Linked DNA regions of Homo sapiens. The protein of the gene in region 1 interacts with the protein of each later gene in a pairwise test. Each region holds a gene or a part of one and is shown in the gene's direction. Other genes may lie near its edges.

Region 1 (4,442 bases):
TCTAGGCTTGTGATTCAGGGAAAAAATTAAGGTTCAAAATATTAATTTTAATTGATAAGTGAAATATGCTTCATCCATATGTTGGAATCCAAAGTCATCAATTTTTAAAAACAACACTTATTTACATTCCCACCAACAGTGTAAAAGCATTCTTATTTCTCCACAGTCTTGCCAGCATCTATTGTTTCTTGACTTTTTAATAATTGCCATTCTGACTGGCTTGAGATGGTATCTCACTGTGGTTTTGATTTGCATTTCTCTAATGATCAGTGATGTTGAGCTTTTTTTCATATTTGTTGGCTGCAGAAATGTCTTTTGAAAAGTGTCTGTCATATCCTTTGCCCAGTTTTTGATGGGGTTTTTGTTTTGTTTTGTTTTGTTTTGTTTTTTATAAATTTGTTTAAGTTCCTTGTAAATTCTGGAAATTAGTTCAACCATTGTGGAAAACGGTGTGGTGATTCCTTGAGGATCTAGAACCAGAAATACCATTTGATCCAGCCATCCCATTACTGAGTATATACCCAAAGGAATATGAATTATTTTAATATAAAGACACAGGCACACATAGGTTTATTGCAGCACTATTACATAGCAAAGCCATTGAACCAACCCAAAAGCTTATCAATGATAGACTGGATAAAGAAAATTTGGTACATATATACAATGGAATACTAGGCAACCATAACAAGGAATGAGATCATGTCCTTTGCAGGGACATGAGTGAAGCTGGAGGCCATCATCCACAGCAAACTAACACAGGAACAGGAAACCAAACACCGCATGTTCTCACTCATAACTGGGAGTTGAACATTGAGAAGACATGGACACAGGGAGGGGAACATCACACACCAGGACCTGTTGAGGGGTGTGGGGTAAGGGGAGGGAACTTAGAGGACCAGTCAATAAGTGCAGCAAACCATCATGGCACATGTATACCTGTGTAACAAACCTGCACATTCTGCACATGTATCTTGGAACTTAAAGTAAAATTAAAAATAAATAAATTTAAAAAAACACTAATAAGAGACAGCATATACAATGCCACAGAAAAGGAGAAAAATTCACGGGCAAGGATATCATCTCAGATATTTTTCAATGAGGAAAATAAATTAGAGAAAAGAATAATCTCAACCCCTTATATACATGAAACGTTTTATTGTTCACACTAAAGAGAATGTTGAAACACCTAAACTAATCTAGTACTACCTCTGGAAAAAAAATTATCAGCCTATGATCATAGGACATTACAACCATTTTTATGTGAAGTATAACACACCACTAACACAGCAGATGGAGCTCAATAACTGCCAGGCAAGTTGCTGCAGCCATGATATGGTGTAGCCATTGGGAAGTGGGTCGTCCTGGAGCTTGGACTGAAACTTTCTCAAGGGTGTTTTGGCCAAGTGACCATATTGACACTAGGCTGTCACAGGTGGCTTCAAGTTCTAGGAGAGTCTTTCTAATGATATCTTGGGATTTTTGATTCACATCAAATGTGAGCATTTCCTATTATGAGTGAGTGTAAAGACTTCACCATATCCTAAGATTAGAGGATTTTTAGCACATGCGAATTTATCATTGTGTTTGATATGTATCACAGGTGTGCTAGCTCTACTTCTGGGATTCACTCTTTGTTAGATCAATAAATAATGGAATAATAAGATGATAGTGATGATTATGACAATGATTTTAAAAAGATCAGAGATGTTGGTTGTTGTGTATGCGTCTAAATAGAAACAGTAAACATATACTTGTATAGGTAATTCATTCATCATGTCTACTCAAATTGGTCTTGTGTACAGCAGTATCATTGCTGTGGTTGTTTCTAATATTGTCAGGAATTTTGAAGATGGCTGTAGTTGTCGATATTACCAAGTGATGCTATCAGCAAGACAGTAGGACTGTGTTCAAATGCATGCCTTCAAAGTTCTTTTGCTTCCATAATTTCTGAGTCATACTTAGCAAATGGTTGTGAAGTCTTAAGTGAAGAACTGTTGCGTTTTGTCAGTGAATACGTGATTGATTGCAGAAGAGCACTTATTTCAATGGCTGTTGGTAAGAATAGATAAAATTCTACCCAAGATAATTGATATGAATCTTCCTGAAATCTAACATTCCAGAAATGGAAAGTGGAGCCTTTTCATCAAGGGTTCAATGAATCTTCCTTTCTGACTTAGGTTAATGCCACCTTCTTCTCTTTCTCTGTTTATTCCTAGAATGCAGGCTCAACAGTACCAGCAGCAGCGTCGAAAATTTGCAGCTGCCTTCTTGGCATTCATTTTCATACTGGCAGCTGTGGATACTGCTGAAGCAGGGAAGAAAGAGAAACCAGGTAAGCAGTAGGGTTCTGAAGGCAAGATGCTTCATTGATTAATGTCCATCTAGTCTAATTACCTGCTTTTCCTTCCTCTCTTCTACTCTGCCTCTCTCCCTTCCTATTCCTCTATTCCTTCAATCTTCCCTTTTCAAAAATAATTACTTAGAGGAACCTAAGAAATATCCTGTCTTATTTTTCTCCCATTGTAAGTCTTGGATTGCATGACGATGATGATCATTAATATAATGATCAAATTAGCAGCTACTATGTATAGAACATTGACCGGTAATCAGGTGCTTTATTATTTACCTCTCTACCTCAAAAAAAAAAAAATGCACTGCAACTTGTTTTTCTCCTTAATTTCAGATTTACAGAGGAGGAAACAAGCACAGAGAAGATAAAGCACCTTCTCTATGCCACTCCCAAAGTCATAAGTAGGCTGTGGAACTGACAGTCTGTTTAAATCTGTGATGCACCATATTTGTATGATGTCATTCCTTCTACAAGGCAGAGAAAGGAACAACAACTTACACTGAAATGGCTCATTTGACAACTGTTATTTCTTTTTTTTTTTTTTTGAGTTGGAGTCTCGCTCTGTCACCAGGTTGGAGTGCAGTGGTGCGATCTCAACTCACTGTATCCTCTGTCTCCCGGTTCAAGTGATTCTCCTGCCTCAGCTTCCCGAGTAGCTGGGGCTGCAGGCATGCACCACCACGCCCAGCTAATTTTTGTATTTTTAGTAGAGTTGGGGTTTCACCATGTTAGCCAGGATGGTCTCGATCTTTTGACCTTGTGATCTGCCTGCTTCGACCTCCCAAAGTGCTGGGATTACAGGCATGAGCCACTTTGCCCAGCTGACAACTGTTATTTCTAATAGAATATTTTCTTCATTTTTAGGAGAACTATATTTTTGACCATCTCTTCTTTTATAGAAATGTTTGCTTCTAAAAGGAGATGCCACTAAATCACTTAGCACAGTCTCTGGCACATAGTAAGAGGGAGTTCAATTAATATTAGTTTTAGCTCTTTTCTCAGTTTTCTTTCTCTCTTCTCTTGATCATTCATTGGTTCAATAATTTGGTTAATATTCATCATGTTTCTACTATTCATTAGACAATAAGGATACAGATTAAAAAACACAGATCCTGCAATTAAGGTGCTCAGGAATGAACTTGGTTATATCTGGAAGTTAAGGAGTTTTCTGTATGTTGATTAGGTTTTCCTCCTTTCATTCAGAAAAAAAAGTGAAGAAGTCTGACTGTGGAGAATGGCAGTGGAGTGTGTGTGTGCCCACCAGTGGAGACTGTGGGCTGGGCACACGGGAGGGCACTCGGACTGGAGCTGAGTGCAAGCAAACCATGAAGACCCAGAGATGTAAGATCCCCTGCAACTGGAAGAAGCAATTTGGCGGTAAGCCTCATGCTACTGAGTTAATCTCCTACTCTGAGATAATTCTCAAATTTTTCCACCAAATGTCTTTTTAAGGATAAGTACTTTTTATTTTAAATAACTTTATCTTACCAGACACAAAGTGACCAGACTGGTCCCATTTCAGGCCAGGCAATTATTTGTTGTGGAGGCTGTCTTGTGCATTTTAGGGTATTTAGGAGCATCGCTGGCTTCTACTCGCTAGTTTCCGGTAGCATTCCTCACCCGCTCCAGATGTGAAAACTAAAAATGTCTCCAAATATCTATGGCCAAATGTACCCTGTTGGTCAAAATCATCCCTGGTTGGGAACCACTGCCTTTCCAAAGGGACATAAAATATATCCTTGATTCCTCTGAATAATGTTAATTGATCTGTCTTCTCTCTCCTTTCTTCTATTTCTAAGTTCCTTTGATTTTTCCTTTCCCCTTTTCTTATTTATTCTCCTGCTTCTCCATGTTTCTCCCTGTCACTTTCAGACCTTCTCTCCCATTTGATCCCTCCCCAACCTCCACACAGTTTCACAGATTCACTTACTGAGTTCAGCAGGGCTGCTCACAGCCACGTTTCATAAATCTTTCTCCCACTGACTGGAGTCAGTCTTATGCTGGCCTGATCTATCTATCTGAGACAGGATCTCTCAACACTTTCAACTTTATATCCAGTATTGAACCCTCAAATAACCTCTTCCACAATCCA
Region 2 (4,442 bases), on another chromosome or scaffold:
ATCTCTTTTTCAAAAAAGATTTGAAATGAATTTAATAGCATTAAATTGCTGTATCCTATATCCCTCTAGCAGGTCATTTCAGTGGCACTGAATAAATGAAGCTTGGGAAAATATTAATACAAATGAATCCTGAAATCTGGAACTCTGATATATGACAAAATGGATTCATCTTGGGCCCATAGAGTACTTTCCTTCCTTGAAGTGTCACTCCAGCCTATGTTTCTTGGCCACACACTCCCTGAATAGTAAACTGATGTAGTCTGAATCTTCTTTCCTTGTCATTTTTCACCTGGAGGAAAGTCAGTGCAAGAGATCATGCATCAGCCTTCCCCTATTGCTTCCTGATGGAGCCAAGCAAAGTCAGTCTAGGGCAGTGGTTCTCAATCAGGGGAGATTATGCCTCTGAGTGGGACATTTTGGAGTCATTTGTGGGGAGGGGTATTACTGGCTTCTGGTGGATAGAGGCCAGTGGTGCTACTAAACATCCTTCAATGTACAGGGCAGCCCCCACAGCAAAGAGTTATCAGGCCCAAAATGTTTTCAGTGTCAAGTTATTAGTGAGAAATCCTGGCTAGGGTTTTTCTTCACTTCCCAAATGTGTCCTCTTTCTCTTCTGACAATGAAGAAGGAAAGAAGAGTATAAGAGGAAATAATGGAAGAACAGCTGTAAGAGATAGAGAACAGAGCTGCTGTGCAGAGAGAGCTGAGAAGGAAGGAGAAGGGTGAGATGTTTTCTGGAAAGTTGAAAAGATTGTTCATCAGCCAGCTTATTTTGAGCACCTACTATGTGCTAGGTCCAGTGTTAGACATGAGATAAGCGATGATTTCAGCATTCCAGGAGTCTCAGTATACTGGCTGCATAAACATTAAGTTCATATCCAGAAATAGATGGGGCATGGAAGGAAGGGGCATGACAGTGTTGCCTGGACCTGGGGAAGGGAAGGATGCATGATTTGGTTTGCTACATTAGATTTGAGGTTGATAAGTAGGTCTGGTACAAGAAATAAGGTGAGGGGGTGGAAAAGAAAGAGGACTTAGGAGCAGAGGGGCAGTGTGAAGGTAAGGAGTGTCAAACAGATTGGCAACTCCTAGAAACTGCATTTGTGTGTGGCTGCAGTGTATGTTTAATAGAGTGCCAGGAGACAAATTGTATTCAGTGGTGGCTGAATCTTAGCAGACCTTTCATACTGTGCTCAGGAGTTTGGGCTTTTCGTGTAGATAGTGCAGAGACATCAGAGTATTTTAAGCAAGGAAACTACATGATCAGATGTCCATTTGAGAAGAATCAAGCTGGCCATGATGTGGAGGCTAAATTGTGAGTAGCGCAGTTGGAGGCGGAGGCAGAAGATTACTGTGATGGTGCAACTGAGATGATGAAGGCCTTGGCTGAGGCAGTTACAGGGGGAAGAAGAGGAAGGAATAGGTAGGATATATATTTGAGAGCTAGAATTGACAAAGCCTAGTGTAGTTGGGTTTGGAGGGTGAGAGTGAGAAAGCCATGGCTGTCTCAATTCCTGGCTTACGTGATGGTTGGATGATGGAATTATTAACTAGGATTTCCTACAAAAAGTAGAAAGGATATTGTTGATCAAGAACCTTACTTCAGTTCACGTCAGCTTTTGCCGGCAAGTAAGTTTTAAAAAAGTGCAGGTTTTGAGAGCTTTTCAGATTTTAGAATTGAGATAAGAAACTGTGGAGCTGTTAAAGGGTTAGAGACATTGCTTGATTTTAGGATGAGGGAAAGGATAAGGGGATTGTAATGAGTAGAGACCCCAGAGAAGATTAGCAGAGCTCATGTGTAGCCTCTTTGCAGGAAGCTGTTTCTGACTACCTTCTTTTCTCCTTGGACAGAACTGAGTACTCCCTCCTCTCCCCACTGGGCGTTGTCCGTATTTCTCCCAGTTAGTGCCTGTAGCACTGCTTTATGTATGTGCCCATCTCCCCATCTTGGGTTAGAATCTCTTAAGGGCAGCTAGAGCATCATATGTGGTATTGTATACCCAGAGTCTGTCACAAGGTTTAGGCATGGATACAGATGTCTGTTAATAAGCAAATGAAAGTAAATTGAATCTATATAGTCTTCTGTTAGCCTTATAACAGCCCTTATATGACAGGTAGGAATCTTTTTCCATATTCTGTTTCTAAATTACCTGAAGATCAAAGGTATGGTGACATGGCTATTGTTACATAGCTAGAGATAGGATGCCAGTTCAGGTGTTCAAGTGAAGTTTAGTGGTATCCAAGGTTTAGGATTTCTGGTGGAAGTAGGTACTTTATTGGTTGTTTATAAAACTGTGAATATCTTTTGAGTAATGTGCAATGAAGTTATATAAACTTTATTAGCTTAAGTCTTTTCAATCAAAATAGCTTCTAAAATATGTGTAAGAGTAACACAAAGTATGCTTTTCTTCACTTATCAGAGTTATCTTCTAGCACTATTGCTAGAGGAGCAGTTTTGAATTATAGTGTAAAAGATTATCTGTATATAATTTTCTTACTTGTAAGTTATGTTTTGTGTTTGTTTTTATGAAATTTTTTAATAATACGTTTTACCAGAATTGTGCACTAGTCTATTTTCTGATGAATTAGTTGTTAGGTTGGCTAATTTTTTGGATATCAAGCTTCTTTGAGTTGTCATTGTTCTGAACCTGGCATAATGTCTTTTTGGAGGCCTCTTTGGAGGAAGCTGCCATCAAGAAGTTTACACCCAGGTTAGGAAGATAAGTTGTGTATTGATAAAAACAGTTCACATATATTGCTTATTTAATATACTCCAGGCTCTGTGCTAAGACAGAATGTGATATGTGTTATATTAATGGTGTAAATATGAAAGTTAAAAGAGGAGAGTGATCATTTCTAATCTGGAGGGTCAAAGAAAGCTCATAGTTAAGGTTACATTTGAGTAGGGTCTCATATGATGGGTAAGGTCTAAGCAGAGAGGAATGGGGTGAGGAGAGTTAGGGATAGAAAGCATAGGTATATTCAGAGAAAGATTAGTGGTCTTACTGGGTTAAGGCACAGCATGCAGAGATTTAGGGGATGTTGGGATCTAAGGCTAGAGACTTAGAGAAGCTGTTGGGGGAGACCTGTTAGATGTAGAGGTGATCCAGCAGGGACAATACTTGTGGGGATGTTACTGCTACTGTAAAAGTGACAGTTATGCTGGGTATTCAAGAGGAAAGGAAGATAAAACAATCAAATATGAGTCAAGTTTATAGCTTTATGTTTTGGTGAATTGTTAAAAAAAAAAAAAGTAGGGAGAATGTGACAGAGTTTTAAGATAAAAATAATGAGTTTAGTTTGGGGCATGCTGATTTTGAGGTTTGACAAGACATCCAACAGTGATCCAAATGCTAAAAGCCAAGCAGACTAGAGAGATTTGAGAGACAACTCAGTCATAGATTTGGATGAGCTTGTCCAGGGGTAATGGGTAGAAAGCGGGAAGAAAGGTGCTAAGCACCAATTATATTTTGTTAATTCATTCCACATTCATTGAATGTCTGTTATGTGACTGCCACTGATTTAAGGACTGAGGATATATCAGTTAACAAAATATACAAACAACCCTGCTCTTTGGAGCTTACATTACAGCATCTGCTTTTGATAAGGAATATAGGTCAGACAGTTCTATATAATATCCTTTAAGTCAAATATGGGCAAGAAATCAAAAGAACCAGTCAAATAAGGTAAACGTAAGTCTAAAGTCTGAGAAAGGCCATTGGATGTGGTGACAACGTGGTAATTAATAACTAATGGTAGAAACAGTTTCAGTAGAGTATTGAGGTGGAAACCAACCTGAGAATTGAGGGGATGAAGAGCAAGCAAAGGAATTGAGGGGTAGACCATCGTTTTCACTCCTTAACTCTTTGGAATATAGACAGTTCTTTCAAGAAGGTGGACAGAAAAAGAGAAAATAGTGCTAAGAGAATTTGTTTCTATAAGAAAAGGTCTCTTGAGCATGCTAGTAGTCAGAGGTTTAGGGTGGTCATCAGGGGAAAAGGCAAGACTGAATATGCTCAAGAGAGGGCAGTGAGCACAAGGATGAGTGAGGACTTCTTGTTCTGGTAAGATGGAATAACTGGAACTAGTTTACTCTCCCATCTAAAAGAAGAAGAACAACAACAGCAACCAGCTCATGAAATATACAAAGCAACAATTTTCAAGCCAGGAAACGCAGTTATCCCTGAGAAATGAGAAACAAATGAGATGTGCTCTGTGATTGTCCCAGCTTAATGCCTTGAGAGTTTCCAGGCTGTGGCACAGTTCCAGAGGGAGCTGAGGTGGAGCTCAGTGAACTCCCTGCATTGAGGAGATGAAGCCGAGAGCAAGGGGAGACCAAGATGGCTAATGTTCATAGAATAGAATACCAGAGAAAAGAGTTGTACAGAGAGAGAACACTAAAGATTTTCAGAGTCTCCCTTGAGTATCCAGCAAAATATTCA
Region 3 (4,442 bases), on another chromosome or scaffold:
TCTAATTGAAGTTATCAAGAGGAAACCAGTTGAACAAGTCAACCATGAATATTTGAGAGCCATGTTTGTCCTTATATATTAAGAAGATGATAATGCTGATTTTAAAAATAAAAACAAATATTCAAGTATATTTACTTAATCTTTACTTCACTATTTGACCAGGGCACAGTGTGGCTTATTTCTCTTTAACAAATATTTCTATTAAAATATAAACATTTTAAAAGATTTTTTCAGCAAAAAAAAAAAAAAAAGTAAGTGAAGTAAGTGGAGCTAGTCAGCTCAGCATAAGAAAGTTTCAGTACAGAGCTATGTACACAGATCAGCCCTGTTCTGCCAAATGTGAGCTCCTAGTAACGACCAGGTCCCGGGGAGACACATGTGAAAGAGGACCCTGCTGTATCCTCAGAAAACAATGGCACCATTTCCTCCATTCTCAATCTGCTTTCTTCATGGCTGGAAAAGAAAGTTTTCCAGTTAAAAATGATTATGTGCAAAGATAGGAAACATTCCATCAACATTAACATATTTAATAATTTATGATTAATTCAAATGCATAAATTTCACATATTACCAGCTCACATGTTTCTTCAACAGTTCATCAGATAACTATCTTGAAAATTTCTGCTTGAAAATTTGTTCCCTTGACCACCCTTTTGCCCTCTCTTAATCAGTCTCCTCTCTCTCTCTCATCTTTTCTTCCTTCTGCTATCAAACTTTTCCTACTGGATCTCAGCCACCGATCCCAGTTCCCTTTTACTTCCTGGTAGTCTGGCTGTTGATCCCTTTGCTCTGAGGCACTCTAGATTTAAGGTCTTGCCAGTGATGTGACCTTCTCTATGTATTTCAAGTACCTATCAAGAGGTAGGTGGTAGAATGGAAGGACCACAAGCTTAGGTGTCAGAGTGTCCTGGGTTTGAACCCTTGTTCAATTTGTTCTATGGGAAGCTCCTCCTCCTCTCTGAGCCTTCATTCCCTTATCTGCACAATGAGGGTAATAATCTACTTCGCAGCGTGTTGTGAGGAATAAATAAGCTGGAAATTTATTGAGCACTTATAATTCACTATGCACTATTCTAAGAACAGGGCTTATCTCATTTAATCCTCACAACAAATCTATGAGATAAGTACAATCACTTCTCTTGGGTTACCAACGAAAAAACTGAGTTCCAGGGTGGTGAAGAAACTAAAAAGATCACACAACTACAAGAGCAGAGTCAGGATTTGAACCCAGATAGACTGAGCTTAACTACTGGCTGTGCTGCCTCTAATATAAAGCACAAAATAAGAGCTTTTACAAGGTTACACTGGCCTGGTGTGGTGGCTTATACCTGTAATCCGAACACTTTGGGAGGCCAAGGTGGGAGGATAGCTTGAAGCCAGGAGTTTGAGATCATTCTGGGCAACATAGCAAGACCCTGCCTCTACAAAGAAAATGTTTTAATTACCTAGGCATGGTGATGCACACCAGTAGTCCTAGCTACTTGGGAAGCTGAGGTAGGAGGATCACTTGAGCCGAGGAGTTTGAGGTTGCAGTGAGCTGCGATCGCACCACTGCACTGTGAGCCAGGCCTCATTCCCCGATCAGTACCCCCCAAAAATGTTACATTGTAGAGTGAAAAGAATGTAGATGCTAGAGGCTAACAGATCTGGGTTTGAATATTGGCTGTGCCACTGACTAGCTGAGAGATTTATGGAAAATCACTTAATCTCTCCTACTCTGCTTCCACGTCTGTAAAAATTTCATTGCTCCACTTTTCTTCAGGCCTATAATATAGGTTAATATAATCATTTATATAAAATGTTCATCATAGTGTCTGGCTCACAGTAAACATTTGATATATGGCATTTGTTAAAATTAGGATAGGAAGTGACATCAGAAGCACAATAAATATTTGTATAAGACAAAGCATTTATTGTCTCCAGCAAGAACCAAAGTAAAAATTCTTACCATAATTTTCCAGGTCTCAGATTCATGTCCAAACTACTGCTTCTGCTTCAACCTTCCTACCAATGACTTCCTAGTAAAACCCCTTAGCTTTTTTTTTTCTTTTCTTTTTTGAGACGGAGTTTCACTCTGTCACTCAGGCTGGAGTGCAGTGGCACAATCTCGGCTCTCTGCGACCTCCACCTCCCGGATTCAAGCGATTCTCCTGCTTCAGCCTCCCAAGTAGCTGGGATTACAGATGTGCACCACCACACCCAGCTAATTTTGTATTTTTAGTAGAGACCAGATTTCACCATGTTGGCCAGGTTTGTCTCAAACTCCTGACCTCAGGTGATCCACCCACCTTGGCCTCCCAAAGTGCTGGGATTATAGGCGTGAGCCACAGTGCCCGGCTGGCCCCTTCACTTTAGAAGGGAGGGTGTCCGCCCCCTGGGCTCTGCTCAATCCTACCAGTGGGTGTTTATAAAGTAGGTTCTGATATAGGTATGGGAACCCTGCATCCCAAATTTTCTAGGGCAATTCTGATTTTCTTCTCCCTTATCAGACTGTATGGCAAACAAAGTGTCCCAAGTTGAGAGTCAGAAAACAGTATCACCAAAAATATAGGCTATCACTTGTTTTCTTGCTCCATGCATCTTTGAAAATAAAATGCTGTCCTTTGTGCCCAGATTATACTAAAAAAAATAACAAAATAAACCTAGGACCTATGCCTCTTGCCATGCCATTAGTCTACAATTTTTTTTTTTTTTTAAGACAAACTCTTGCTCTATCACCCAGGCTGGAGTACAGTGGCATGATCTCGGCTCACTGCAACCTTCTCCTCCTGGGTTCAAGTGATTCTCCTGCCTCAGCCTCTAGAGTAGCTGGGATTACAGGCATGCACCACCATGCCCGGCTAATTTTTTGTATTTTTAGTAGAGACGGGATTTCACCATGCTGGCCAGGCTTGTCTTGAACTCCTGACCTCGTGATCCCCCTGCCTCAGCCTCCCAAAGTGCTAGGATTACAGGTGGGAGCCACGGCACCCAGCCTAGTCTGCTCTTTTTCTCCTAAAATAAGGTGGTGGATTTATGAATACAAAGAGTCTAAGAATGGTGGACTAGGTCTAGCAATGCTGTTCCTCAGCAGCTTTTTGGACAGAAGTCTTTGTAGACCTGTGGCTCTCTCACTTGATGTAGACCCATTTGAATGAATCTCCTTTTGCTTTCTCTTTCTTTAATATTTTTCAGGTACGAGCAGGTGATAATAAATATATGCACTTGAAAGTATTCAAAAGTCTTCCCGGACAAAATGAGGACTTGGTACTTACTGGATACCAGGTTGACAAAAACAAGGATGACGAGCTGACGGGCTTTTAGCAGCATGTACCCAAAGTGTTCTGATTCCTTCAACTGGCTACTGAGTCATGATCCTTGCTGATAAATATAACCATCAATAAAGAAGCATTCTTTTCCAAAGAAATTATTTCTTCAATTATTTCTCATTTATTGTATTAAGCAGAAATTACCTTTTCTTTCTCAAAATCAGTGTTATTGCTTTAGAGTATAAACTCCATATAAATTGATGGCAATTGGAAATCTTATAAAAACTAGTCAAGCCTAATGCAACTGGCTAAAGGATAGTACCACCCTCACCCCCACCATAGGCAGGCTGGATCGTGGACTATCAATTCACCAGCCTCCTTGTTCCCTGTGGCTGCTGATAACCCAACATTCCATCTCTACCCTCATACTTCAAAATTAAATCAAGTATTTTACAAAGTGTGTGTGTGTGTGTGTGTGTGTATATATATACTTTTTTTTTTTTTTTTTTTTTGAGACAGAGTCTCGTTCTGTCACCCAGGCTAGAGTGCAATGGTGTGATCTCGGCTCACTGCAACCTCCACCTCCCAGGTTTAAGCGATTCTCCCATCTCAGCCTCCCAAGTAGCTGGGATTACAGGCACCTACCACTGCGCCTAGCTAATTTTTGTATTTTTAGTAGAGACAGGGTTTTGCCATGTTGGCCAGGCTGGTTTCGAACTCCTGACCCTAGGTGATCTGCTCGCCTTGGCTTCCCAAAGTGCTGGGATTACAGGTGTGAGCCACCTTGCCCAGTCTATATTTTTATTCTGAAACAAACTTAAACATAGAGAAAAGTTGCAAAAAAAAAAAACCCACTTTTTTTCCTGGACATTTGAGACTAAGTTACTTACCATGATGCCCCATCATCAACAAATACTTCAGTGTGCATTTCCTACAAACAAGGATATTCTCCTGCAAAACTGAAATACAACCATCAAAATCAGGAAATTGCCAGGTCGCAGTGGCTCACGCCTGTAATCCCAGCACTTTGGTAGGCCAAGGCAGCAGGATTGCTTGAGGACAGGAATTTAAGACAAACCTGGGCAACATAGCGAGACCATGTCTCTACAAAAAGAAATTAGAAATTAGCTGGGCATGGTGGTATGCACCTGTAGTCCTAGCTACTTGGGAGGCTGACGTGGGGGGATGGCTTAA
Region 4 (4,442 bases), on another chromosome or scaffold:
AAAAAAAAACAAAAAAACTCCCTGGCAGGCTCTTCTCCCCGCTGGTCCCGCTCAGGAGTGTCTCTGCCCTGATGCTGGGTGTGGCAAGAGTTAACCCTGTAGGCAGGAGGGGTGCCCCAGTGGGTCCACCTCCAGCAAGGACTGAGAGCGAGCAGAGCCAGGACTGGGGTCTATGGTGAGGCCAGGGAAGAAGACCCAGCTGTACCCCAGGGAGAGGGCCTGAGCACACTGAGCTGACCCTGGGGAGACCCTGACAAGGCTTAGACAGGCCCCAGGGCTGCCGTGATCTCCCAGTGAGCCCCAGAAGGGGTCAGAGGGGGAGGTTTGGAGGCTCTAGCAAGTGAGTGGGAGCCCCTTCTGACAGGTGCTAAGGGATGTGGGGAGCCGGGGGAAGGAAGGAGGGTGGGGTGCAAGGGAGGAAGCGTGGAGAGGGAGGGGGAGGTGGGACAGACCAGGAGGGCTCTTACTCCTCTGGGCTTTTCCCCCACTTTCCAGACACTCGATGGATCCACCCACATTCACTTTCAACTTTAACAATGAACCTTGGGTCAGAGGACGGCATGAGACTTACCTGTGTTATGAGGTGGAGCGCATGCACAATGACACCTGGGTCCTGCTGAACCAGCGCAGGGGCTTTCTATGCAACCAGGTGACCAACCCAGCCACCCGCATCCAGGCAGGGCCCTCCCAACCCAGGGACACCCATGGGCAGAAGGTTCTGGGTGGTACCTGTGGTGTCCTGCAGAGTGTCTGTCACCTGTGCTTCCTGTAGCTGCTGCTGCTTGGCCCTGGGGTTGGGGGAGACTTCGGCTTCAGTGACTCTCCAGGATTGGTGGCTTCCAGCCCCACACGCCTAACCAGCCACATGTCTCAGGGGCTAACACCACTAGTCCAGAGTCACCCCCAGGTCCAGGTCTCAGCCGTCCCCACTCCTGCTGTGCTCTGAGAGGGTCAGGGCAGAGGAAAAGGGTCTGCACCAGGGCCAAGTGGGATCAAAGAAAAAGCGCTTCCGGCCGGGCACGGTGGCTCATGCCTGTAATCCCAGCACTTTGGGAGGCCGAGGCTGGCGATCACAAGGTCAGGAGATCAAGACCATCCTGGCTAACACGGTGAAACCCCATCTCTATTAAAAATACAAAAAATTAGCCAGGTGTGGTGGCAGGCGCCTGTAGTCCCAGCTATTCAGGAGACTGAGGCAGGAGAATGGCATGAACCTGGGAGGCAGAGCTTGCAGTGAGCCAAGATCGTGCCACTGCACTCCACCTGGGCAACAGAGCGAGACTCCGTCTCAAGAAAAAAAAAAAAAGTGCTTCCTGAGGACCCTCCCAGGATCCCCTCACAGACACAGCTCCCACCAGGAATGATTCAGAACTGTGGGATTTGAGGATCAGGGCCTACCTGACCTCACAAGGCCAGGATTCCCCAGTGCCTGCTCCTGGGCTTCATCCTGCGGGAAAAGAGACTGAGGCAGGAGAGGCCGACCAGGGATTCTGTCCTGACCAGGATGGAGCCCACAGCAAGGCCAGAACAGGCCCCAAGTCAGGATGCAGGGATGGCCAGCATTTGAAGAAGAGCTGGGCCAGGCCAGGCCGAGGGGCCCTGAGCCCGAGGGACGTTCTTCCCTCGCCCTTGCCCAGCACAGCCCCTGGCTGGAGAGGCCAAATTCTGCTTGGCTCTGGTGCTGGAAACGGGGTTCCTCTGGGCTCTATGAGCTTAATATGGGCCCTGCTGGGCCCACACACACTGCTTGGAAGCTACTTTCAAAGGCACCGGTCCCCATCACTGTCTAACCAGTGGGATGGGACTCCCCCAGGAATGACCCACAGCCCCTTCTCAGCACAAATCGTGTCATCCATTCTACCCCGAGTCCTCTCTGCACTGGACTCCTGGGCTTGACTAGTTCCCAGTCGAAATTTGGACAAAACACCATCATTCCTTGGGCTCAACAAGGACAATCACCCCATGACTGGGGCCCTTCCCAATGTGGGGTTAGTCCTGCTGGGGGCCCCTCATCCCCACTTCTCCCTGCAAAGGGAGCCCTCTGGCCTCAGTCTATGTCACTCGTGGGCTTAATACAGGGTAAAGCACAATGTGGAAGCTTCTAGAATTATAGGTCACAGAAGGGGTGGGGCAAGGGGAATTGACGGGTAGACAGGTCAGCCTCCCCATGAGGGAAGCACACGCAGCTCAGTGGCATCTGTCCTCCCTCCCCCAGCTCTACAGCCCCTCCCTGCAGGCCTGGGGCGGAGTGAGGGTCCTGAAGGCACTGACCTCATGTGCAGAATGAGAGGATGCTCCAAATACTCAGTATCAGAGAAATCTCATCGTAATGGAAAATTAAATTATTTAATAGATTATTGTAAAAATCCGGTCAGGTGTGGTGGCTCATGCCTGTAGTCTCAGCACTTTGGGAGGCTGAGGCGGGCAGATCACTTGAGGTCAGGAGTTCAAGACAAGCCTGGCCAATATGGTGAAACCCCGTCTCTACTGAAAATACAAAGATTAGCCAGGCGTGGTGGTGCATGCCTGCAGTCCCAGTTACTGGGGAGGCTGAGACACCAGAATCGCTTGAACCCGGGAGGTGGAGGTTGCAGTGAGCCAAGATGGCGCCACTGCACTCCAGCCTGAGTGACAGAACCAGACTCTGTCTCAAAGAAAAGAAAGGAAAAGAAAAGAAAAGTCATCTTGATAACTGGGGTTTGGTGCCCCCGTCTAATTTTGTGCTGGAGGCTGCCCCGCACCCACCCTGATCCAGGCTGTCCCTCCTGACTCACTAAAAATTCCCTCGGCCGGGCGCTGTGGCTCATGCCTGTAATCCCAGCACTTTGGGAGGCTGAGGAGGGCAGATCACCTGAGGTTGGGAGTTTGAGACCAGCCTGAACCACATGGAGAAACCCCTTTTCTACTAGAAATACAAAATTAGCCTGGTGTGGTGGTGCATGCCTGTAATCCTAGCTACTTGTACACTCCAGCCTGGGCAACAAGAGTGAAACTCTGTCTCAAAAAAAAAAAAGATTACCTCATGGCTTGCTTTCTTTTCTAGGCTCCACATAAACACGGTTTCCTTGAAGGCCGCCATGCAGAGCTGTGCTTCCTGGACGTGATTCCCTTTTGGAAGCTGGACCTGGACCAGGACTACAGGGTTACCTGCTTCACCTCCTGGAGCCCCTGCTTCAGCTGTGCCCAGGAAATGGCTAAATTCATTTCAAAAAACAAACACGTGAGCCTGTGCATCTTCACTGCCCGCATCTATGATGATCAAGGAAGATGTCAGGAGGGGCTGCGCACCCTGGCCGAGGCTGGGGCCAAAATTTCAATAATGACATACAGTGGTGAGAATGGAAGCCTGGAGTAGGATGGGGTCAGCCAGGGCAGGAGAGGGCCCCGGGAAGTTACTAGAAAGTGGGGAGGGTCGGCATCCCTGTGGGAAAGGCCTTGATCCTCTGCCTGCAGAGGCGATGGCTGCACTCTGGACCTGACTTTGGGGTCGACGGGAAGAGAGAGGCCAGGCCAGGAGATGTGGACCTGGGGAGGGCGGGGAGGGTGGCTGGAAGTGGAAGCAGAACTTGGGGCTTCCAGAAAAAATGAGAACTGGGCTGGCCCAGATTCCAATAGGAAAGAAGTGCCTGATGAAGGAGCTAAGTCCCTAGGGGAGGGAGAGGGAAAGGAGGGACTGAAACCAGGATGTGGGAAGTCTGTCTTGAGAGTCATGGGCCTTTGGTGCCACCACGATCCCACAGCGGGAGTGTGACTTATCTCCCCTGTCCCTTTTCAGAATTTAAGCACTGCTGGGACACCTTTGTGGACCACCAGGGATGTCCCTTCCAGCCCTGGGATGGACTAGATGAGCACAGCCAAGACCTGAGTGGGAGGCTGCGGGCCATTCTCCAGGTGAGGGCTTCTTCCCTCTGCCCAGTGCCCCATCGGCCTCCCCCTCCTCCCCTCTCCCCTGCGCCGTGCCTTCCCCTCTGCTCAGAGCCTCCTCTGGGTTCCCTGCTCCCCCAGGGCACCTGTCTCTGTCCCTCCCTTTCCTTCTCACAGCCTCCCTTTCTCTCCCACCTCCCACATCCCTCCCTCCTCTCCGATCATTGTCACTGTCCCCAGGCCTCCACCATATGCCTACTTTCCACTCGCTCACCCTTTGCTCCATTCAACCTCCCTGCTCTTCCAGAATCAGGAAAACTGAAGGATGGGCCTCAGTCTCTAAGGAAGGCAGAGACCTGGGTTGAGCCTCAGAATAAAAGATCTTCTTCCAAGAAATGCAAACAGGCTGTTCACCACCATCTCCAGCTGATCACAGACACCAGCAAAGCAATGCACTCCTGACCAAGTAGATTCTTTTAAAAATTAGAGTGCATTACTTTGAATCAAAAATTTATTTATATTTCAAGAATAAAGTACTAAGATTGTGCTCAATACACAGAAAAGTTTCAAACCTACTA
Region 5 (4,442 bases), on another chromosome or scaffold:
TTACAATTCTTTTTACCAAAACAAAACAGCAAATTTCCCAATGTCAGGGGCCTCGCCTTCTTTTTTCTATCTACTTACTTTTTCTAGTTATAAACAGCTAATTATACAGTTAAATACTCAGTATAGCAACGGTTAACTGAGTGGCAGGAGAAATAACAGGCCAACCATTCTGGTACCTTAAAGGACATTAGGGTGATAGATTCTGCTACAGCATTTCAATGGAATGGGGATGAGATAATACTGTAGTAGTAAGAAGTATTGTCCAATGTTGAGTAAAAGACCTGAAAACTAGGAAGGAACTACATTTCTAATTGGCGGGTAGTTATTAAGCTTTCAATTTGCTGGTAAAGATAGTAAAATTAAGGAAATCGAAGATAAGAGTAGCATGATCATATGAAAATAATGTAGAACTCTTTATCATTGTGTCTTAATCTTTCAGGAAAGAATCTGAACAGATTTTTTAATCATTACTAGTAAATCTATTATCAGTCTTCAACAATTTATGCTATGTCATGAAAAAACAATGTTTTGTGTGTGTGTGTGTGTGTGTGTGTGTGTGTGTGTGTGTGTGTGTGTGTTTTCTTTTTCTTTTTTTTTTTTTTGGAGACAGAGTTTCGCTCTGTCTCCAGGCTGGAGTGCAGTGGCGCAATCTTGGCTCACTGCAATCTCCGCCTTCCAAATTCAAGCGATTCTCCTACCTCAGCCTCCTGAGTAGCTGTGATTACAGGCATGCACCACCATGCCCAGCTAATTTCTTTATTTTTATTAGCAACGAGGTTTTACCAGGTTGGCCAGGCTGGTCTTGAACTTCTGACCTCAAGGAATCTGCCTGCCTCAGTGTCCAAAGTGCTGAAATTACAGGCATGAGCCACCATGCCTGGCCACAAATTTTTAATAAGTAAGGAAAACTCACCAGAGAAGCACAACATAATACAAATGTACTGGATTTAGACTCTAACTTTATATACAAAGTAAATAAAGTACCAGACTTTGAAAGATATTTCTGATAGAATTTTTTTTCTCTCTTTCAGGGTGATCTTGGAAAAAGAAGGGCCTCGTTCCTTGTTTAGAGGACTAGGCCCCAATTTAGTGGGGGTAGCCCCTTCCAGGTAAAAAAAAAAAAAAATTGTTTAAAGCAAGTTATGGCAATCTCTTTTGTTTCAGCACACCTGGATTTAATCATTTATAGATACAGTTAAATTTATAAATGTAGTATTCAATGTTTATGGGAAGTTAAAATACTTAATTTTCTTTTTAAGAATTTCAGATTCTAGCCAGAACAAATTTATATAATAAAGTAATGTTTGGTGGTAGGAAATGATACTGGATATTTTGAAGACTTAACAGTATTTCATTGCTGTTAGAAATTAACAGTAGTAATATGAATACAAAGGCTATGTTTCATAATGTGAGGGAGAAGGTATAGTATTTGCATTAAATTATTGATAGTCTTATACTGGGGGAAAATAATAAAGTATCGCATATTATACCTAGAAGTTTAAGGAACAGTGTATTTATAGATAAGAGTTTTAAATGTTAAAATTCTATAAATGGACCTGAGATTTTTTTGGGGGAGATGTTGTAATCAAAGTTGAAAATAATGAATATATTATATATCTTTATATTGCATAGACTAGGAGATATAAAATTACTAATATTTGCAGGATAAATGGAAATACTCTCGTAGCTAGTGGCAGTGTATTGAGTCTTCTGGGGAGATGCTTATCCTCTCATCTGACCATAGGAGTTAGAAGAATTTGGGGGTGCAGAATTGAAAATCTACACAGGGCTAAGGCTGCAAAATACTCCTGATATTTTGAGATAAGTGTTTGCTAGATTTGTGAGTTTAACTAAACCAGCTCTTGCATCTTGAAAAATTTTGACTCTAAGAAAGGTAAGCATTCTTTTAAACAAAATATTTTCCTTGGGCCAAAAGGCATTTAGGATATCTCGACTTTTTCTGCTTTTCATAGCTGTCCTGCTGTGCGCTCCACCTGAAGTTAGTGTTCCTTTCTCACTTTCCACATAGAAATTAAACTTCAAAGAAACAAGATAGAAAATAGAACCAAAGGACTAGGAAGGATGTCAGGGCTTAGAACAGGGTTGAAGAAAGGGACAAAAAGTCTAAAAACCTGAGAATTTGTGTATCGTTGAAGGGCAGTAAGTGATGTACATGGCCTTTACCATAATAAAAAGGAAGCTATTCAAGGAAGATGCTGAAGAGGTGTCAAGGTGATAAGGATAAAGAACTATGGTGTGACAAACAGGTATCAGTAACCATCTAAAAGGATGGGCATGGCACCATGTGTAGGTGCAAAGGACCACATAGTAAGACCATTGTGAAGTAGTTTTTAAAAAAGTCAAAAGACAGAGAACAAGCAAAGGAACTAATAACTAAAGGAACAACCAAAGGAACTAGCAGTTAGAAAGGGGAAGATCTGGAACTCTTAAAACTAAGTCATTGTTTGGCTTATGGGACAAACCAAACAGATAGAATGGTTGCAGTCCCTATTAAGCCAAAAGGACATGAAAACATAACTTCGTCATTTTTCTCTGACACCATTGCATCTTAGATTGTTAACCTCTTCCATGATAGAACACTGTATAAAGTTCATATTTAGAGTGAAAATGCTTTCTGTATCCAAACCATGTACCAGATCCATGTCTTGTTATTTATTACGTTTCAACTTTTTATGGGTTCTTTTCTCTCTTTAAGAAAATATCCAAAATTGCATCCTAATTATAAAACAAGTTAAAAGAAAAAAAACACCATTAATAGACAGTTCATGTATATTCTTCCAGTAATTTTTCTCGGTTATCATATACATAAAAACATGTATACTTTATTGTGCTTTACATAAACTGAATAATACTAAATGTTTAACCTAATCTAACTGAAGTTTTTCCATGATAATATGTGGGGTGATTTTTTTAAAATTGTATAGCATTCTAGCACTAATAAACATTTCCTTATTATACATTTAGATTATTTTTAGATTTTCATTGTATAAACAATGGTTCAGTAAACATACCTCAACCTTTATCTTTGAATACTTTAGGAAGTATATTTTTTTAGGATGGTCACCTAAAATTAGAATTTCTGGATAAAAGGGCATATGCATATTTAAGACTAGTGAATATTGACCGGGCAGAGTGGCTCACACCTGTAATCCCAGCACTTTGGGAGGCCAAGGCGGGTGGATCACAAGGTCAGGAGATCGAGACCATCCTGGCTAACACAGTGAAACCCCATCTCTACTAAAAATATAAAAAAATTAGCCGGGTGTGGTGGCGGTCGCCTGTAGTCCCAGCTGCTCAGGAGGCTGAGGCAGGAGAATGGCGTGAACCCGGGAGGCGGAGCTTGCAGTGAGCCAATATAGGGCCACTGCACTCCGGCCTGGGCAAAAGAGCGAGGCTCCGTCTCAAAAAAAAAAAAAAAAAAAAAAAAAAAAAAGGCATACTGGATTTTTATCCCTTATCCATAGCCTTACCAATGCTGGCTACTGTCCATCTTTTTTAAATACTTACCAAATGGACTAAGAGGGATTTTTCACTGTTTTAATATGATTTATTTAATTTTTGGTGCAGTCATACTTTCTTGTAATTTGTCATTTGTATATCTCTCCTGTGAATTGCCTATATATATTTCATGGCCATTTTCTCATTAGGATTTCTTTTTTTCTTACCAGTTTCTAGAAATGCATTGTTTATTCCTCTTCCCAACTTGGCATCAAGTGTATCTTATGTTTTTCTTTCTCATAAATTAGAATGTTTCATTTTCAGTTATATTAATTTTCCTTTTTTCTTAAGTACATTAAAAAAGGTACAACAGTGAAATTCTCATTTGTATTTGTCACTCTGTTTCTTATTGGATGAGTAATCAGGATTTTTGGGGAAATAACTGGATATTTCATACAGCAAGCAAATAATTCAAAGCATGGGAAGTTAACATAGAGGTGGTAGTGGGGATGCATAAAATCGTAGTCAGTAAGTTAACAATGAGGGAAATAATTAAATTTCACTCAGTGTTTACAAACATTGGAAAACATTCTGACCTGATGGGTCTGATTTCTTTTGTTGGAATTGTTTTGTCTGTTTAAGGATAATGTGAATTACTGTGTGTGTAGTATAATTAGAATATACCACAGTATCTTAAAATTGTTTAGCATATACTTTAATCAGTTGGATCTGCTTCACCCTCTTCTCCCCATGAAGAAAATTATATGTTAAGTGCTCATACCATATCTACTTATCTTCAGTAACTATATTTAGCCTTAGCATTACACCAGCCTTACAGCCTTATTCATTCATTTAGTTTCTAAACATTAAAATCTTAAATACTTTTTGTTTAAATTAGTTATTATTTTGTTTTTATTTTTTTTTAATTTCATTTTTTCTTTTTATCTTCTTGGTTACCAAGTTTTAGTGAGTTAAGTGGCTGT
Region 6 (4,442 bases), on another chromosome or scaffold:
TAACACGTCTTACTGGAATATGTCATTTTTATACCAAATCATTCCACTAGGCTGCAGCACAGCAGCAGTATTGGCTCTGATGATGCTGAATCAGCAGCAAAGTGAACCATATTCTTGTTAAGTGTTATTATCAGTAATAGTGTTTCATAGTAAGCAATTAATACAAACCAGTGATGCAAACCCAACTATCTCTAGTGTAGCCCTTGGGTATTAAAAGCATTAGCCATATTATATTCTGATTTCTACTATGCAAATTACATTCTAATACTGCTGTCACATTAGAAGTACTTGTAAAATACTGAAATTATAAATAGAAAAACAGTAAAATTATTTATGCCAATTATAAGTAATTTTATGCAGATATTTGATCTCTAAATTTCAGGTCTATGTTTGAAAACTCTACTTTCAATTAACCCAACATATTATCTGGAATAGGGTTTCAAAAGAGACAACTTACTAACCATATTGTATTTAACAGTCATGTCTGGAATAGATTGAAGTTAAAAACCAAGTAGCAAGAAACATTTCCTCATCCTTCTTAAACGTATACTGAGCAATGGTAAAATTGATTAAGCGTTATACTAAGTACAATATATGGTTCATATTATGATATTTTAAGTAGTAAAAAGAAGCGTTCTCGGAATGACACTATAGATGCATATTTGAAAAACTGAAAGTTAGCACAGACAAATCTATTTATCTTTTCTTGACACTTACACAGACCAATGAGTTCACAAAAATATATTGTTTTGTCATAATTACAATAATCTGAAATCTACAGAAAAAATACAAGTCCTAAATTTAAAAGAAAATCTGCCTTTTTCCTTTCTAGTTGAAACCTTTGGATGATATTCACGGAGCATTCATATAATTTTCTGCATTTACCCCAATAAGTTCAACCTTCAAAATTACAGATTTTTTTTTCATGCATAAGAACAAGAAACAATTTCAAACAATTACCAAGCAATGCCTGTTTTCTAAGATAACAATATCAGCTCTGGGTCGCCTGTGCCCTCTTCTTTTCTGACTGTAGAGCAGTCTCACCTCACTTGACATTTTAGTATGAGCCCTTGAGCCCTTTTATAATCCATTTCTCCTGTCTTTCTTGAATAGAAGGGCACCTAAAGCGTATAAGTCCATTTTGCTTTTCCCATACCTTCTTGTCATCACTCACTTGAACTAACTGTAGACACATATTGTCAAAAAATAAGACCCATCACATTAAATTTGTAGATTTCTGGGAATGTATTATTCTTAATGAAATATTAACAATGATGAGTTGAAATAATCTGACCTGTTTAAAAATTATTAATACAACTTTTGCTTAACTCTCTTATCAATGCAACTTCTCACAAAAAAGTAACTCTTGATTTTTTTAAGAATGAAAGTGCTTTATTTTCATCAGTTTCTTTATATTTTTATCTGATTTCTTTCTGGCAATGTATGTGATGACCTATACACTTTAAGAGACATTGGTTAAACATTATGGAACTAAAGAAAGGGAAAGCTGCAAATTAAATAAGAAGGAATACAATAAAATCACATTTTACATCATTTTAGGAAATAAAATGTAGCATTCCTTCAAAATAATGCCTGCCTGTGGGAGATTGAAATGCCTTCATATAAAAATGCCTTTCAGTAAAGGGTTTCGTATCCTTAGAGAGTTTGTCAGAAACATTATAAGCACTTTACGAAATCACATGATTTCAATTTTCAATCTTTTCTTTTTTTTTTTCAAGAAAGTAGTCTTGATTCAACATACTCTATATGATGTGATGATATAAATTAAAGTTAAATGACATTTCAAGATTCAGGACAGAATTAAACAATAGACTATAAGATATAATACAACATTGCTTCACAACAGGAAATTCAGCAATAAATGACATTTCTAAACACTTCAGAGCCCTGCTGATCCCCATAAATTTAGCAGGTCATCTTCTCCCTCTCTCTCTCTTCTACCCCATCTCTCTTTCTGCAAATCTATATCTATTTCCATCTCCCTCTCTTTTTTCCTTTTCTCTCCTTCCTCATTTAAAACAATTACAAAACTCCTTGATTAAATTTCCCATGTGCTTTAAAAAAAATTGCCCTGTTGTAAAGTTATATTTCTGTAAATCTTGTGATTTTTATGGCCAGTATTCTATCATCTGCCACATTATACATTATATTTATTACACTATCCTTTGCATTATAGCACAAAGTATATGACAGTTCAGTTGGCTAGAATCTATTCTTTTAAATGAAAGCAACTCTTTTATAAATTTTATAACACTGAGGCTTCTAAGGAGTTGAAATTGGCACCAGTGTAGTTTACTGCACTAGCAAGCCAAGTGTGGGAATTCAGCACTTATTATTGAAATGACTCCTCCAAATTATCAGAATGTAGAATGTACAGACATGAATTATTATGCTCAATGCATAAGTTATTGATTAGGAATCTTTACTGATTTACTATAAGAGAGGATATTGAAATGGTTTGACAGAGCCCTGATTTTTAAAATAAACATAAATTACATGTTTCTAGAAAGCAATGTTTCATTAGACATGTTGATTCTTCTTTGCTGCAAGAAACAAGTATTACCAGTTTAGAATCTAAAAATGAAATCTGGTATATAATGAGCAAATGTTGTAAAGAACTACCATTGCTTTTGTTTCCAGTTGGAAATTTGGGAAACAGAAACTGTAACAATAATTGAGGTAGGCATAATATGTAACAAAATGAAATAATCAATAAGCTGAATACATTAAATATTCTACCTTGAGTTATACTGGGAATTCTCTCTATGGTTAATGTAATATGTATAAATACAAGAATTAAAGTTGAAATTCAATATCATTATCTGAATAGATCAAAGGCAGCCCATATATTTGCCCTAGTAATTGGAAAATTTGGAGTAAATTTTGTACATAATATTAATACAAACTTTTAAAATGTAACTGTTTCTCCTTTCGTAAAAATATAGCTCCACTCTCAATAAAATTAAGTCAAATAAACTTCCTTTGAATCCATTGTAAATTCTGGGACTTCTGAATTAAGGAATATTTTCATAATTACTGAAGCGAACTTCAAATTTAAATGAGGCACCATAATGTTTCCAAATAATTTGTCTTCTAAAGGTAAATTTTAAATTAGTAGGCTTATTTTTTGATAGATTTGAAAATATTTAGCTACCTGAGGAATTTTAAGGGTTTTGTGTTTCCATATAAATCTTCAACCTCTAAAGTGTATTTATCAATTATTTTATATAAAATATTTTCCTTAAATAAACCAAAACGTTAAAATTTTTATACCTCTAACTCAAGTGGTTTAAATCTATTGCTAATAAGATCAAAAACATGAATTACATACTTTCAAAACCAACAGTGTGATATTGATTTGCTTTGGTGATGACCTGAAGAAAAGAAACTATTGGAGTAAAATATATGTCAACTTATTACATCAAATAAGAAGCTGATTATCCAATGATTATCTATTAGCTTAGTCAACTATAATATATTTTCTATTCTTTTTTGACTTCTTCTTAAAGCATTATAAGTTGGGGGTTAGTCCTGCTCTGTAGTCTTGAACCATATTTTGTCACCAGAGTGATTTTTCAACATGTAGTCCCTGAAGAGTGAAAAACAGCAACATGCAGATTTATTCTGCCTGCATTTGGCTCCCTAAATTTGAATATTTCTCCATGAGTAGAAACTTACAGAAAATCTTTATTTATCTACCCCCTCAACCAAGACTTTAGTTATTCCTTTGGAGATGAGTTAAAAAATGAATCCTAAGCACAGACATATACTTAGAGGCACTGTCACTTTGTCTCTTTTTCCTTTTTTTGTTTTCAACTACTGAGTGAAGAGTGGAGGTTTTCTACAGAATTTCTACACTAAAGAAGTGACTTCCCCCCCTTCTTGCTGTATGCAATTAAAAATGATAAATGAGAACTCTACTTTTTCTGAGACTTTCTTGTCTTCTAGCTAACTGTCTTTTAAAATATATATCCTAATTTTCAATAGTTAATACTAGATAGTTCTACATAATATTTTAAAAATTAATTAATAAGCCTTCACTAACTTGGGAATAGGCATAAGTACTTGCTATCGATACTTAAAAAAACGGCAGAAATGAAATACTCCTAAAATCTAAGTTGAGAAAAATATTTTCTTTACTAATTTTTTTTCTCCCCTTGGACTTAGATTTGCCATCATATAGAGTATGAAATCTGAAATCCAGCCCAGTGGAGATGAGAAAATAGATGAATGGCAACCATAATCTTGACTTAAGAGCAATGAAATTAATCACTTTGCTTTATAAGTAGAGGCTAGATCAAGCCTGTTTCTAGGTAGGTCGAAGAAGAAAAAAGTGTGGATGAGGGAGAGCCTTGTACTTCATTAAAGCAAAATGAAACTTTGCATAGGAACCGCTGTTTCCAGAAACACCCTTAGGGAAA
Region 7 (4,442 bases), on another chromosome or scaffold:
GAAATAAATGATCTCACTGTGCCAGGACCCAGTTTTAAATTCATGCTGTATCATTATAGTGATTCTCTGTAGTGTAATGTGTGACTTACTCTTATGTCAACTTCTAAAGGTTTTTAAAAATCTTTAATTTTTTCATTAAAATTATATCTGATGAGAGACAAGTTAATTTCAATTTCAAGATTTTTGTTATATTCTGTTAATATTCGGAGTGTCCTGGACACATGGTAAATGTTCCTTATTCTTGTCTTAAAGTCTAAATCTCAGATACAAATCCAGGCCAGGTGTTAATTGACAGACACCAGATAGTTGGCGTTCTCAGAGAAATTAGGTTTCAAATTATCTTGTACTTTACATTAATTTTAAAAAATTACTGAGAAGGACGCAATTTATTTTTGATGATGTTTCACTATCTCCAAAGAATTAGTTGCAACTCAGGCTGTAATAAATTGACTGGAGAACATCCTACATTTGGAGAGAGAAAAAACTATTGGGTAACACCCAGATCACTAATCTGTTTTTTTTCAGTAGTTTCTAAATCATCTAGTTAAAAATTACTACCTGCTGCAAGTTTAGACCTAAATACCCTTATCCTTTGAAGACTGTTGAGGTTGCTTCAGAATTTTTATAGCTCTTTGCAAAATATTATTAGCATGGAATAACTGGGTGCATCCATAGGCTGTTTAACTAATACAGGGTAGCATTGCATTCTTCTTTAAAGGAAATTGTAACATTTAAATTCATTAATTTAATGGCCCAGTTTATTGTTGATTAAATTATCAGAAGCTAAATTAGTTTTATCTCACAACCAGCTGATTGTTTTATTTCACGATGGGCCTGAAATTCTGTAAATATGCTAATTTCCTGTTATGGTGAACATCCTGCTACTCTGCTTTGCACACACTTCATAGTGCTCTCATTCATTTAGCAAATGTTTTGGCATTTAATATATACCAGTCACTAGGCCAGGCACTCTCTCAGCAAATTTTAGTGTTGGAGGTCTCCTATTAAATAATCTCTGGGATGTGTGGGATTTTTAGATCAGATAATTACATTTTTTAAATTTAACTTTATGCTAGAGAAGAAATATTTACTTCTTTATAGCTTTTTTGTCAAAATACTACTCATGTGTTACTGTCGCCTGTGTCCATATTTATAGAAGGCTACCCAGTTATATCTACCCAAGTATGAACCATTTTGGGAATAATCAAAGCCATGTGATCTATTGGCTCTAATGTAAGGTAAGTAGAATAAATAAATCGCTACCCCAAAGTAACTCATGCTTCTGTTTTTCTCTGCCCTTTAAAGTTCCAGAAGCAAAATGTTCAAAGGTTGAATATTTTACAAGCTTGGAACTGAAAGAATGCTACAGTGTGTCAGACCAGCCATGATTCATCCAGCCCAAGCCACAGAACAGTGTAGAGGGAGAATATGGTTATCCTTGAAAATGATGGCCTCAGAAAGCAAGGTGTTATACCAGCTATGAATTAATAACAGTCTAGACTAGAAGGAATTTTGTTTTTTTTTTTAATCTAAAAGGATTCAGGAGGTAGTAGTTGGTTCAGTAGCACAAAGATGAACATATTTGCATTCTTTTGGTTAAGGTTTGCGATTTCCTGGACCTTTCATTTGTCTCTCAAGAGGGCTAATCATCATGTCTGCTTTTCAGGCAGTATATAGAAAAGGATGAGGGCAAAAAGGCTGACTCGCAACTTCCATATGTGCGCGCGTGCACACACACACACACACGCACACACATGGAAATTATAGATATATATTCCCTATCTATCTATCTATCTATCTATCTATATTTGGCTACTCCTGTCTGCAAAGAAGTCTGGGAAATAAAATTTTTCAGTCAGTCCTGTTGCCCAAAGTTCTTTAGTAAGGAAGAAGAGAATGAGTATTGGGTAAGTAGAAGTTAAATAAAAAATTATTCAGTGACACTTGTTAAGGCATGGTAAGGAAGACTATTCAGGACCATCACCATAGATGTAAGGACTACTGTAACGGGGTCCCACAGCTGGGGAGAGAGATTGGGCCCAACTCCAAAGACAGCATGGGCAAGTGAGAATTTACAGCCAAGGAGCAGAGTCAGTGGATAAGAAATTACTAAGAGGAAACATCAGGGGTAAGGGGAAATCTGGAAAAACCAACCTAACAGGATTCTTGCTGAAGGCAGGCCAAGGTGATCAGATACCACCTGGAGGTTGGCTGGGGGTGAAGAACCTGATCAGATATCAGGGATGGGGGCAATTCTTGCTAAACTGACTTAGCAAGGTTCTTTCCTAAAACTGGGTTTTACAAGGAAGTGCATAGATGGACCTAGCAGAAGAATTAAAGCCTGACTAAAGTTTGGCCAAGCAAAGAGTCTTTGTCACAGGCAACTAGCACTCCCTGCCATGAGTGCACGTGCACATACACTCATGCACTCCTCAAAACATTCCTCTCTCCCTGGAGCACATGTGAATGATTATCTATGAATTGATCTTGAGCTTTCCTGTGTATCCTTTCAGGTTATATTTTTTCTTCTGAGTTTTTAGCCCTAGTTAAATCACACAGTCAATTCTCTAGAAATAGGATTGTGCAGTGGAAAGAGCACTGGACTTGGACTGAGGGGACCTGATAAATCTGGTTCCAGTCCTCTGACATCTAAGCTTCCATTTCTTCCTTCAATTAATGGAAATGAATTACCGTCTCTGCCTGTTTTACAGGCTTCTTATAAGATCACATGAGCACTTTTAATGTCTGTAAAAGTGCATTGTAAACAGTGAAGCATTAAACAGTTAAATGTATGGTATTGTTATGATGCCTGTGTTCAAAATCAAGCTACTCATCTTCCCAAAAGAATGAGCTATTGCTCCTGACTTCTCTTATGGCAAGTCACCAAGTCTAGACACCTCAGTCTTTTGGCTACATCTGACTCCCACCCCACATCTCTGGTTGTAATAGCCTTTGATATTATTCTCTTAGTATTTCTTCATCTTCACCATATCTGACTTACTCACTGCCACCCCTGTTGTTCAGGCCTGTATCATACTTATCGCTTGGCTATTGCAATAGCTCTCTGAGTCAACTTCAGGTCCAACTCTCCCTTCCCACCTCATATCTCTACATATTTCTAGACAGCCCTCATTTTTAGTGGATATAGTATACTATGGGATTGCCTTGTCATAATTTAGTAAATATTTTTCTGCTTTGGGGCATCAGGTTGTTTACATTTTTTGTTGTTATAGTGTGGTAGTAGACATTTGTGTGTGTGTATGTGTATGCTGTACATAGCTTATGATTAATTATTTGTTACAGTAAATTCCTTTAACATGAGTTACTGAGATAATGAACAGTTCTTTCATTTTTCCCAGTTGTTTCCCAAAGGATGATTCCAATTTATATCCCATGAAAAACAGAATACTATTTATCATGAATATATTATAGCTTTTCATAGTGTAGGGATCAAAATATGCCACCCCCAAATATGCCACTTTGGTATATTGATTATTTTGGGTAAAAGGCATTGAAAAGGCTGGGCATGGTGGCTCATGCCTGTAGTCCCAGCACTTTGGGAGACCAAGGTGGGTGGATCACAAGGTCAAGAGATTGAGACCATCCTGGCTAACATGGTGAAACCCCATCTCTACTAAAAATATAAAAATTAGCTGGGCATGGTGGTGTGTGCCTGTAGTCCCAGCTACTCAGGAGGCTAAGGCAGGAGAATGGCGTGAACCCGGGAGGCGGAGCTTGCAGTGAGCCGAGATCCCGCCACTGCACTCCAGCCTGGGCGACAGAGCGAGACTCCGTCTCAAAAAAAAAAAAAAAGAAAGTTGCCCTCCCTGTACCAGGAACAAGGAAGACATTCTTATAACCAAAGATGGGTAATAAAGGCTGAGAGAAATCTGTACAAACAAACCTTGTTAAACCAACCCTTAACTTCCCAGTCACTTTTCCACAATTAACTGCAGTCACCCAACTTCTTTGTCTTGTCATGTTTTCTAAATTTACTCTTTGTCCAACCTACTATATAGATGTTAAGTAAGCTCTAACTGCTTCTTTCGGTCTTCATTTTTCTTGTGAGGGCTCCCATGTACATGTAAAAAGTACTGAATCATGTTTGTATGCTTTTCCCTGTTAACCTGTTTTACGTCAGCCTCAGCTAGAGACTTTAAGAGGGTAGAGGAGAAATTTGACGTTTTGTACAAGTAGTCTACAGCAAAACTTTAAAAACGTATAATAAAAAAATGTGGGTGTTCATTTTCATACACGCGGAATCCAGGCACATCAAGTCCAGGAAGATTTGGTGCACTGCAATATAGGTAATCTTGTACTTAGATTCATAGGCCTGTATGGAAGGATGAAGAACTTGAATGCAAAGTTGCTGTACATGTCAAAAGTGAAAAACACGACAAGCAGCAACCATCTCAAGGAAAAACAGAAAATTGTATTCTTGG

The links.
Region 2: the proteins of PTN (region 1) and ARL15 interact in a two-hybrid assay, tested with the Homo sapiens proteins (one large-scale study listed by BioGRID and IntAct).
Region 3: the proteins of PTN (region 1) and CSTA interact in a two-hybrid assay, tested with the Homo sapiens proteins (one large-scale study listed by IntAct).
Region 4: the proteins of PTN (region 1) and APOBEC3G interact in a two-hybrid assay, tested with the Homo sapiens proteins (one large-scale study listed by BioGRID and IntAct).
Region 5: the proteins of PTN (region 1) and SLC25A36 interact in a two-hybrid assay, tested with the Homo sapiens proteins (one large-scale study listed by BioGRID and IntAct).
Region 6: the proteins of PTN (region 1) and CDH10 interact in a two-hybrid assay, tested with the Homo sapiens proteins (one large-scale study listed by BioGRID and IntAct).
Region 7: the proteins of PTN (region 1) and HSPBAP1 interact in a two-hybrid assay, tested with the Homo sapiens proteins (one large-scale study listed by BioGRID and IntAct).

Annotation. Positions count from the first base shown.
Region 1 is NC_000007.14:137,252,749-137,257,190, reverse strand, and holds part of PTN (pleiotrophin isoform 1 precursor), read left to right. Parts: intron 1-2,216; 5' UTR 2,217-2,217; coding exon 2,218-2,332; intron 2,333-3,553; coding exon 3,554-3,727; intron 3,728-4,442.
Region 2 is NC_000005.10:54,167,211-54,171,652, reverse strand, and holds part of ARL15 (ADP-ribosylation factor-like protein 15), read left to right. Parts: intron 1-4,442.
Region 3 is NC_000003.12:122,338,265-122,342,706, forward strand, and holds the end of CSTA (cystatin-A), read left to right. Parts: intron 1-3,174; coding exon 3,175-3,303; 3' UTR 3,304-3,705; downstream 3,706-4,442. UniProt on the Homo sapiens protein: This is an intracellular thiol proteinase inhibitor. Has an important role in desmosome-mediated cell-cell adhesion in the lower levels of the epidermis.
Region 4 is NC_000022.11:39,083,236-39,087,677, forward strand, and holds part of APOBEC3G (DNA dC->dU-editing enzyme APOBEC-3G), read left to right. Parts: intron 1-495; coding exon 496-649; intron 650-3,043; coding exon 3,044-3,332; intron 3,333-3,775; coding exon 3,776-3,891; intron 3,892-4,171; coding exon 4,172-4,186; 3' UTR 4,187-4,442.
Region 5 is NC_000003.12:140,958,432-140,962,873, forward strand, and holds part of SLC25A36 (solute carrier family 25 member 36), read left to right. Parts: intron 1-1,031; coding exon 1,032-1,109; intron 1,110-4,442.
Region 6 is NC_000005.10:24,637,827-24,642,268, reverse strand, and holds part of CDH10 (cadherin-10 isoform 1 preproprotein), read left to right. Parts: intron 1-4,442. UniProt on the Homo sapiens protein: Cadherins are calcium-dependent cell adhesion proteins. They preferentially interact with themselves in a homophilic manner in connecting cells; cadherins may thus contribute to the sorting of heterogeneous cell types.
Region 7 is NC_000003.12:122,783,205-122,787,646, reverse strand, and holds part of HSPBAP1 (HSPB1-associated protein 1), read left to right. Parts: exon of another isoform or gene 1-1,238; intron 1,239-4,442. UniProt on the Homo sapiens protein: May play a role in cellular stress response.